Linked DNA regions of Homo sapiens: region 1 is linked to region 2. The links come from fine-mapping of genetic effects on gene expression. A gene starts in region 2. The other region holds a variant in brackets. All regions are shown on one strand. Distances are from middle to middle.

Region 1 (5,370 bases), 29 kb after region 2:
TGCAAGCTCTACCTCCCGGGTTCACGCCATTCTCCTGCCTCAGCCTCCAGAGTAGCTGGGACTACAGGCGCCCACCACCACACCTGGCTAATTTTTTGTATTTTTAGTAGAGACGGGGTTTCACTGTGTTAGCCAGGATCGTCTCGATCTCCTGACCTCGTGATCTGCCCTCCTCGGCCTCCCAAAGTGCTGGGATTACAGGCGTGAGCCACCGCGCCCGGAACTTTCTTGTGTTTTTCTAGAGACAGAGTCTCACTACATTGTCCAGGCTGAGAGGCAGGAGAATAGGGTCCGGAGGCAGGGAATCTAAGGCCGAATCATGCTGACTGAATATCAGAGAGTACTCCCTTTTCAAACCCTCCTTTCTCTGTATGGCATTTGAAAAATGAAAGTACGTCTGATTGGTCCCCTCTCACAACCAGTCAGACTGATAGCAGGCCTACTCTCTTCATTTTGATTGGTCCCCTCCCACAATTAGACTGGCAGTCGGCCACTACTTCATTTGCATAGGGTGAACCAATGGGAAACCTCTAGATTGTATTTAAACCCCAGAAAATTCTGTCACCAATGCTCTTGAGCCACTTGCTGGAGCTTGCTCCCACTCTGTGGACTGTACTTTCCTTTAAAATAAATCTCTGCTTTTGGTGGATCAAGAGGTCAAGAGTTGGAGATCAGCCTGGCCAACATGGTGAAACCCCATCTCTACTAAGAATACAAAAATTAGCGGGGCGTGGTGGTGCAAGCCTGTAATCCCAGCTACTCAGGAGGCTGAGGCAGGAGAATTGCTTGAACCCAGGAGCCGAGATCGTGCCACTGCACTCCAGCCTGGGCGACACAGCAAGACTCCGTCTCGCGGGCACGGTAATTAAAAAAACAAACAAAAAAAATCTCTGCTTTCATTGCCTTGCTTTGTTTGTGTGTTTTGTCGAATTCTTTGTGCAAAACACCAAGAACCTGGACAATTACCCTCAACCGGTCACAGCTGGAGTGCAGTAGTTTTTCACAGGCACAACTGATGCAGGGCAGGTGAACACCCAAATTGGCGATTAGCCCAATAAGGCTCATGGTTCTTTCCTGAGCATGTGGTAGAAGATACAGCTTTATTGAGGATGCAGTTTTACAGCCCCATGACTGCTCCTACCGAGCAAGGCCACCCTCTAGGCAGTGTGTGGAGAGCAGCAACTCAGGGAAACTTCTGCAGTCACATTTATATTGACTTTTAATTACATGCAAATTAAAGAGTGGGTTATTCAGAAATTTCCAGAAAAGGGGTGGTAACTTCCAGGTTGTTATGGAAAAAGGCAGTAACTTCTGGGTGTCGCCATGGCAATGGTAAACTGTCGTGCTGGTGGGCGTGTCTTACGGAGAAGTGCTTTCTGTGCCTCTTCCCTGTTTCAGCCAGTCTTGAATCTGGTCCAAAGTCGAGGTCCTGTTTCCTGCCCACAATCATTGTGCACTACAGCCTCAAACTCCTGGGCTCAAGCCATCGACCTGCCTCAGCATCTCAAGTAGCTGGGACTACAGCTGTGTGCCACCAAGCCTGGCTAGACTTTTAACTGTTCCCTATTGATGGATATTAACTTTTTTTTAAAAATTGTCCATATTACAAATAACGCTGTTTAAATCCCCATAGATATATCTTTGCTCTTCTGCATGAGTACTCTGTAGCAGTATTCCTCAAATGTTAACGTGTATAGAAATTGCTTGAGGATCTCATTGAAATGTAGACCTCTCAAGTGATGCTGATGCTCTTGATTCATGGACTACGCATTGAGTAATATGACTATGTGGGAAACTTTTTTTTTTCTTTCCCAGGCTGGAGTGCAGTGGTGCAATCATCATGGCTCACTGCAGCCCCAACATCCTAAGCTCAGGTGATTCTCCTAACTCAGCCTCCCAGGTAGCTGGGACTACAGGCGCATGTCACCATGCCTAGCTAATTTTTTGCAATTTTTGTAGACACGGGTATTTCTCTATATTGCCCAGGCTAGTCTTGAACTCCTGGACTGAAGCCATCTGCCCGCCTCAGCTTCCCAAAGTGCTGGGATTACAGACAGGCAGGAGCCACCGTGCCCGGCGTACATTCTTAGAAGGTAGAATTTCTGGGTCAAATGGTACGTACTTTGCCAATCTTAATATGTCAAAAAATAGCTTTTGAGGGCTGGGTACAGTGGCTCACGCCTGTAATCCCAGCACTTTGTAAGGCTGAGGCGGGCTGATCATCTGAGTTTAGGAGTTTGAGACCAGCCTGGCCAAAATGGTGAAGCCCCTTCTCTACTAAAATACAAAAATTGGCCAGGC[A/G]CAGTGACTCACACAGTAATCCCAGCACTTGGGGAGGCTGAGGCGGGCAGATCACGAGGTCAGGAGTTCGAGACCAGCCTGGCCAACATGGCAAAACCCCATATCTACCCCCCCCCCCAAAAAAAAAAAATAGCCGGGTGTGGTGGTGGCACATGCCTGTAATTCCAGCTACTGGGAGGCTGAGGCAGGATAATCGCTTGAACCCAGGAGGCAGAGATTGCAGTAAGCTGAGATCACGCCACTGCACTCCAGCCTGGGTGACAGAGTAAGACTCTGTCTCAATAAATAAATAAATAAATAAATAAATACAAATAAATTAGCTGGCATGGTGGCACACACCTGTAATCCCAGCTACTTGGGTGGCTAATGTACAAGAATCTCTTGAACCTGAGAGACAGGGGTTGCAGTGAGCCAAGATTACGTCACTGCACTCCAGCCTGGATGACAGAGCAAGACCCTGTCTCGAAAAAAACAAACAAAAATAACATTATTCTAACTCTTCTAAAGATTGTTATTTTACAGTATTTTTTTTTTTTTTTTTTGAGACAGAGTTTCTCTCTTGTCACCCAGGCTGGAGTGCAATGGCACAATCTCAGCTCACTGCAACCTCCGCCTCCTGGGTTCAAATGATTCTCCTGCCTCAGCCTCCCGAGTAGTTGGGATTAGAGGTGTGTGACGCCACACCTGGTTGATTTTTGTATTTTTAGTAGAGATGGAGTTTCACCATGTTGGCCAGGCTGGTCTCGAACTCCTGACCTCAGGTGATCCACCCGCCTCAGCCTCCCAAAGTGCTGGGATTACAGGCATGAGCCACCGTGCCTGGCCAGTATTTTTTCTTTTTCTTTTTGAGACAGAGTCTCGCTCTGTCACCAGGCTGGAGTGCAGTGGAGTGATCTCGGCTCACCACAACCTCCGACTCCCTGGTTCAAGTGATTCTCCTGCCTCCGCCTCCTGAGTAGCTGGGATTACAGGCACGCACCACCACACCCAGCTAATTTTTCTATTTTTAGTAGAGATGGGATTTCACCATGTTGGCCAGGATGGTCTCAATCTCCTGACCTCATGATCCGCCCGCCTCAGCCTCCCAAAGTGCTGGGATTACAGGCGTGAGCCACCACTCCCGGCCCTGGCCAGTATATTCTTAAATATTACTGTTGAGCCATATATATGACAATGGTGGACTTTGATGAATATCTGCACATCTGTAGTAAAATGTGAAGCTATCTTCATTCTGTTGGTATGGTAAACTTTTAAAATATCTTACTTTTTAAAAAGAGTTGGTTTGTGTGTTTTCTATGCTTACAAATTTTTCCATAGTACTGTAGATCATTTTAGTGATTAAATTTGACCCTTTTGACAGAAAAACAGGTCAATGAGTTCCTTGGGATCAAGAAGGGGTTGACTTCTTGATCTTGATCTTGAGGGAACTGTTAGAGTGATTCTACGATTGTTCTATGTCTTGATTATGATAGGACTATGCATTTGTCAGAGCTTATACTTAACAGGGTGATTTTTTTTTTTTTTTTTGAGATGGAGTCTTGCTCTGTCACCCAGGCTGGAGTGAAATGGCAAGATCTCGGCTCACTGCAACCTCTGCTTCCTGGGTTCAAGCGATTCTAGTGCCTTAGCCTCCCGAGTAGCTGGAATTACAAGCACGTGCCACCCTCCCACTTCAGCCTCCTAAGTAGCTGGGACTGCAGGTGCGCCCCACCATGCCCAGCTAATTTTTAACTTTTTTTTTGTAAAGATGGAGTCTCACTATGTTGCAGAGACTGGTCTGGAACTCCTGGGCTCAAGCGATTCTCCTGCCTTGGCCTCCCAAAGTGCTGGGGTTACAGGCATGAGCCACCATGCCCAGCCAGCCAAGTGCAACTGTTAACTGATTATAGCTGTATAACAAATCATCTCAAAACGTAGCAGCTTAAAACAGCAAAATGTATTATCTCAGTTTCTCAGGAATCCAAGAGTGGCCCAGGTGGGTTCCAGTCAAACGGCTGGCTGGAGCTGCCGTTATCTGAAGGCTTGGCTGGGGCTGAAGGATTTGCTTCCAAGATGGCTTACTCACATGGTTGTTGGCAAGACAGTTCCTTACCATCTGGACTTCTCCACAGGGCCTGAGTGCCCTCATAACATGGCAGCTGGCTTCCCCCAGAGCAAGTGATCCAAGAGAGAAAGAGACCAAGATGAAAGCCACTCTGCCTTTAACTGAGTCTCCAAAGTCACACACCATCACTTCCACTTTATGCTATTCTTTAGACGCCAGTCACTAAGTCCAGCCCACACTCAAGTGGAGGGGAATAAGGCTCACCTCTTAAAAGGAAGAGTATCACAGAATTCATGGACATATTTTTAAACCACCACACAGACACATTAACTTCTTGTCTCTTATACATTTTGAAAATATTTTCCTACTTTGTCATTTCACTTTGCTTATAGAGTGTCACCTTACAGAAATTTGACATTTGTGTGTAGTCCCAACTGCCAGTCTCTTGCATAAGGCTTCTGAACTGTGGGTCTGGTTCAGAAAAGCCTTTTTCACCCCTAAGGTTATGAAAATATTCTCTTGACTATTTTGATGGTATTTAAATATTTTTCGGTCTTTATTACATCTAGAATAGGTTGGTATATAGTGTGAGGTAGGGGAGCCAAAAGGGGAGCCAATTTTTTTCTACATCATTTATTGATTAATCCCATTCTTCTCTACTGACTTGAAATGCCATCTTTATCATATATATGGGTTTTATTCCTGGACCCTATTATCTTCCATTGATCTCTATGTCTACTGCTGCTCCAATGTCATACTGTCATAACTATTGATTTTAGTATTGATTTTTCTCTATATATCATATATCCTGCCACCTTATTATTTCTTTTTTTTTTTGAGACAGGGTCTTTTTTGTTTTTTAAGACAGAGTCTCACTGTGTCACCCAGGCTGGAGTGCAGTGGTGCAGTCTCGGCTCACTGCAACCTCTGCTCCCGTCAAGCGATTCTCGTGCCTCAGCCTCCTGAGTAGTTGGGATTACAGGCGCACACCACCTTGGCCAGTTTTTTAGTAGTAGTAGTAGTAG
Region 2 (5,370 bases):
GCCCAGCCATTTCTACAAGGTCAGGGAAGAAGGCCAAAGGTTAGTTGAGGGAAAGAGGAAAAGGGTTACTCAAGAAGGGAGGCTCAAAGAGGAATTCAAGTTTTAGAAAATGAAAGAAAGTGCAAAGAAGCAAAAAGACAACTCTACAAAAAATAACATAATAAGGGAGGTAGAGGTCAGAACCAACTGCCAAAAGATGGTGTAACCTGAACAGAAGCGTTTTCATCCTCCCATCATGCCCAGGTGGAGAGACTTGGAGAAACACCTATGATCTGCAAGGAACGTATCTACCTGTTCCAACAGACTTCAACATGAAAGGGTGCACACCGTGGGGAAACTCCCAACCACCAACAGATCCAGAAACAACCTCCAAAACCCAGCCCAGAGTCCCAAGGACAGCCACAGGCTGAGGTCCAATAAACATTCGAAGCCCCCCCAACCAATCTGACATCCCACTGGATCACTACCATAGCAACACAGTGGCAAAAGGTGCCCCTCAAGAGACCATCCCAGGTGTCCATCTGGCAGCTACCCCCTACCCCAGTTGCCAAAGCAACTCCTACCCTCCTATAGCACCTCAGGTAAGGGAGCTTGAAGGTACCTACCCTAGTCAAAATAAGCCCATGCACAAAGGGAGATCTTTGAGCTCAAAGCAGTAACTAAGGCCTCCCTATATAGATCACAGCTCCAGGGGCAGCGGACGCTCCGGAAATTGGAGGGTGGAGGGTGGAGGTCGCAACTTGCCTGGAGTGCCTGTAAGGTTGCTCAATTCTCCATTTCCATCCTCCCAGAACCCCTTTCTTCCCAACTCCCCCTTCTGTGTTCCTGTTTTCCTCCTCACTAGTTTTGGGATAACCCACACTACTGGGCCCCAGTGCCCTCTCCAAGAAATAACTATGTCTGGGATAGGGAAAACAGGGTCAGAGGTGACCTGCAGTAGGGGAATGAAAACCGTCACAAAGACATGGCCTTCCCTCTTCCACGCTGGAAAACCTCCGGCTCTTCTCAAAAATGGACCTCTCTTTGCCCAAGCCTCCGTCTCCCCCAGGTTCATCAGCCACAATCCCTCTTTCCACCTACCACACCCCTTTCCCGTTTCCCACTTCCCGTCTATTCCTAAAGCCCCCAACCCCAGGCTCCGGAACCCGTGTTCTGGTCCTTTGGAGCTTTTTCCTGGAGGCTTCATGCCCCACCTCGCTGCCATCTCTCCTATCCATTCTGCCTTCGCCCGGAACCCCACTCACAGCATCCCCCGTTTTCCTCCGCCAACCCCGGCCTCGATGTTCCTCCTCTTTTGAGTCTGCGGGTCCCGGATACCCTCTGGCCCCACAGGCCTCCTCCGGAGACCCTCCCTCCTTCCCCACCTTCCCGATCCTCCCGAAACCCTGGCCCCCGACTCTCCTCGGCGGGCCCCACCCCCTGAGCCCCCGGCCCTCAGGCCAGGCAGAGCCCGCAGTGGGGGGACGGGATTGGGAAAATAACAAATGGAGGCGGCGGCGGCAGGAGGGGGAACTGGGAGGGGTGGGGGTGGGGAGCCGCAGGCCGGAGCCCGGGCGGGACAGAACCCCGCGGGCCCGGGGCCCAGGCGGCCGCAGACCTTACCTGCTGGTAGCTCGGGACGGCTGGCTGGCTCCGAGCGGGATTCCGGGCTCCGGCGCCTCTGGGGGGCGGCGGCGGCAGCTCCCCCGCCCCCCTCTCCTCTTCTCGGCCTCAGTCGCCGCCGCGACGACGGCGGCGGCGGCCCCGACCCCCCCGGAGGGCGGCCCCCATCCCCCCTTTTCCCCGCCTGGCCCCAATCGCCCGCCGGCCCCCGGAGCAAACCCCGATCCCCGCTCTGCTCCCCACCTCCCCGGGCTCGCCGCCTCCCCCTGGCCGCCCGGAATGCCCCGGGCCGCGCCGCCCGCCCCCGCCGCGCCGCCCGGCCCCGCGGCCCGCCCGGCCCTCGGCGCGGTTCCGACCCGCCGCCGCCCGCGCCCGCCTAGCGCAGCCCGCACCCGCGCGATCCCGGGCCCCTCGGCCGCCTCGCCCGCGGCCCCCGCCCCTTCCCCGGCAGTCGGCTCCCTCTCCCCCCTCCTAGCCCCTCCCCGAAGCCGCGGTCCCTCCGAAATGGCCCGGCCCGAGGCCCCGACCCGGCGCGGGGCTGCGGACGGGCTGGGCGGTGCGTCCGGCGACTCGCACAGGAAAGCGGACGGCGAAGGGAGGGAGCCTGGGAGAGGGGGATGGGAGAAGGGAGGAAGAGGGAGAAGGAGGGAGCGCGGAGGAACGGAGGAGAGAGGGGCCAGGAGGGAGACGCGAGGGAGGGAGCGCGAGGCAAGCCGCGAGGGGGGAGAGAGGGGGAGCCGGAGAGGGGGAGGCGCAGCGCGAGTTGGCCGAGGCCGAGGCCGAGGGGGCCGGGGCGCGGGGAGGGCTAGCCGTGGCGGAATGTGGGGAGCCCGCGGGCCCGGCGCGGGAGAGGGCTAGGTAGGAGGGGCTGTGGGTGGTGAGGGCAGATGAGGGGAGGCTGAAGTTTGGGGGCGAGCGGGTCTGTGGCAGAGGTGAAGTGGGAGGAGTTTGGGGGATCCTGGGGTAGAGATTGGGATAATGGGATTGGATTGGAAAGATGGAGCTGCCTGGGGGCTTTGTGGGTGCCTGGTGAGAAGTGAGAGAAGCTTGGGGTGAGGGATCTGTGGCAGAGATGGAGCCAGACGGGTTTGGGGGCTATTATCAGAGAGAATGGGATGGAAGTTTGGGGTCATAAGGAGAGAGAAAAATTGAAAAGATGACATATATAGAAAGATGGGGCTTCTGGAAAAAGTAAAGCTTTTGGGGGTGATTAGTGTTGACAAAAGAGTCATAAATATAAGAATTGGGGGTGGGGGGATGAAGGAATGCTGGAGAGAGAGAAGTCCAGAGGAAACGTCAGTGAGGAGAGAGAGGAGGGAACGCGTGAGGAACCTTAAGAAGGGATGAACGAGGTGGGCCCAGGTGCCAATTCTAGGGAAAATAGGTTCTGGGTGAGAAAGGAGGGCTCTGGATGGGAAAGAAGGGTGGGAGACACCGGGCTGGCTGGATCCTGGGGGTGGGGGCTCCCAGTAGAGCCGAGGAGGGTTTACTTGGGCGGGCAGAATGGGGAAGAGGGGGATAAGAAGATTGGAAGGAAATGTAAGCTGAACAAGGCCTATGGCTGGCGGCAGTATGGAAGAGGAAAGATCATGGATGGGAAAAGAAAATGGAGATGGGGCCGGTGCGGGGGCTCACGCCTGTAATCTCAGCACTTTCGGAGGCTGAGTCGGGTGGGTCACTTGTCAGGAGTTCAAGACCAGCCTGGCCAACATGGCGAAACCCCGTCTCTACTAAAAATACAAAAATTAGCCGGGTGTGGTGGCGCATGCCTGTAATCCCAGCTACTCAGAGGCTGAGGCAGGAGAATCCTTGAACCTGGGAGGCAAAGGTTTCAGCAAGCAGAGATCGCGCCACTGCACTCCAGCCTGGGAGACAGAGCGAGACGCCGTCTCAAAAAAAAAAAGAAAAAATGGAGATGGGAAACGAGGGCAGTTAAAGGAAATGACAGATGTGGGAGCGGGGGGAGGTTGCTGGCAAGCTCATGGGTAGATAGGTAAGGGATACAGCTTGGAGGAGTGAGACACCATCCTCAGGCCTTCCATCTAGTGGCATCTCCATTTTCCTTCTCAAATCTGTTGAAAGTCATCACTAAAGATCCCCTGGGTCACAGGGAAGCAGTCGGGTGAAGACTGGGCTTAATGTGGACCCAAATCCCTGGGTATCCTTGTTGCTCAATCCCACTTGTTCTAAGGTGGAGACAGTCCCCACCACAGACTGCAGGCTCCTCCCAACCCTTCCTCTCCCTCCCCTGCTCTCCAGGTAGCCTCTGGCAGTCAGTCTGCTCCCGGCCGTGAAGCCAGCACCTCCGCCAGCCCACCACCAGTTCCTTCTCCTGGGCTCCCTCCTGGCCCTCCACCAAGCGGCAACATCTCCCAGGACAAAGGACACAGGGTGATTTTTGGCAGCAGAAATTGGGAAGGCCAGAGAATGGGAGGGAGGCAGGCTGGCAAGCCGGAAGAGCTGGAGCTGGAGTGTGGATTAGGAGCCCTCAGTAGAGCTCCAGATTTGGGGTGGGGGTCGGGTACTTGTGGGGCCAGTCTTGCTGGAGGCTAAGGGTGGGCCCTGAATTGGCAAGATCCCACCTGCCTTCAGGGAAGGAAGGAGGTTAGCTCTGGAGCAGCTCAGTAGATTTTTGTCTCACAATTCCTTGGGCCAGATTCAACAAAGTTCTGGGAATACTCAAAAGCTCTAAACAAGATTCCAGAGCACTGGGGAACTGGGCGCAGGAACAGGAACACTTCCTTGGCCTGGGAATGAGTCATCACTCTGAAGTCCCTTGAATTGGTTGGCACTCACTTTACCACTCCAAGCACACCTTCCTCCCAGGGCCTCCCTGAGACCAGGCCAGCTCCCTGTCTCCCTGTGCACCCCGACTCCCTTCCTCTTGCTCTAGGGTAGCTGCTGCTCCTCCCCACCCCTGACTTTGTTCCAGGGCTCCCCCTTTCCCTCTCACCCTCTCTCCCCATGGCATTTCCTCTCTTTCTGTACCACTCAGTTCAGTCTCCCACTGGGCCTTGGCTCAAGCCCTTTCCAAATCCCTTCCAGGCTGAGCTCTTCTCCCTTGTTTTTTAATCACTAAGGAATGGGCTACAATGGATACTAAAAGAAAAATTTAGGCATATGTGGGGATAGGGGATGGTGAGAGTCACAAAAGAAACCATTGTCTACCCTCTCCCATTCCTCCCCTACCTGAGGGCCAGGCTTATAGTCCAGCTGCAGGGGACATCTCTCTCTCTCTCTCTCACACACACACACACACACACACACGCACACGCACACACACAGCCCCAGCCATCCCTCACCCCAGCTCCCTCTCTGGCTCAGCCCCCCACAACCCATTGGTCTCCAGGCAACGGCACAAAGGGAAAGTGGAGAGAAGGGCCTGGGAGGCCCAGGCAGAGCTAGCTGTAACCCAATCCAACCCCGATACTTTGGGGGTTGGGGGGCCAGACTGTCAGAGAAGGCGACCTGGTGAGGAGGGATGAAAGAAAGGACAGAGGCTAGGAACTAGGCTCAAACTAGGATAGTCCTGGTCAGTCTGGGAGTTACTAAGGTAAGATGGGTATCAGGGACCCCAGAGAAAACTGAGAGGCACAGAGGAAAGTACAGGAAACCCCAAGGGAGGCATAAAGGGTCGCCAGGAGAAAAGGGAAAGATGAGATGCCCACACTGAAACTAAAAGGCACAGAAATGGAAAGGGGGCATGAGGCTCTTTGAACTGAAAATGGCTGAGGTGTCAGGGACCCGGGAAGGAGGGCAAGAAAAGAA

Which allele goes with the higher level. Positions count from the first base shown, and alleles are read on the strand shown. Sizes are in standard deviations (SD) of each study's normalised expression.
For the expression in whole blood of the gene that starts at base 2,028 in region 2, G is the high allele of the variant in region 1 and A is the other (small effect, 0.27 SD a copy in Lepik 2017).

What was found. PIP is the estimated chance that this variant, and not a neighbour inherited with it, causes the effect. A credible set is the group of variants that fine-mapping cannot tell apart.
Region 1: its variant is the best candidate, but not a certain one, in a credible set for the expression of ATN1 in whole blood (Lepik 2017, PIP 0.72).

The regions. Positions count from the first base shown.
Region 1 is chr12:6,896,046-6,901,415 of GRCh38, reverse strand. No RefSeq gene overlaps it. Among named protein-coding and RNA genes, the nearest start is that of LRRC23, 6.1 kb to the left of the region's middle. The variant A/G (reference allele first, on the strand shown) is at 2,302.
Region 2 is chr12:6,924,617-6,929,986 of GRCh38, reverse strand. It overlaps ATN1 (atrophin 1), which reads right to left and starts at 2,028. Exons shown (of 10, transcript NM_001940.4): 1 at 1,603-2,028. LOC124902868 (a long non-coding RNA gene) reads left to right here and starts at 2,291. Exons shown (of 2, transcript XR_007063194.1): 1 at 2,291-2,460; 2 at 3,862-5,370. RefSeq lists silencers at 2,030-2,189, 2,370-2,419 and enhancers at 3,444-4,143, 4,844-5,370.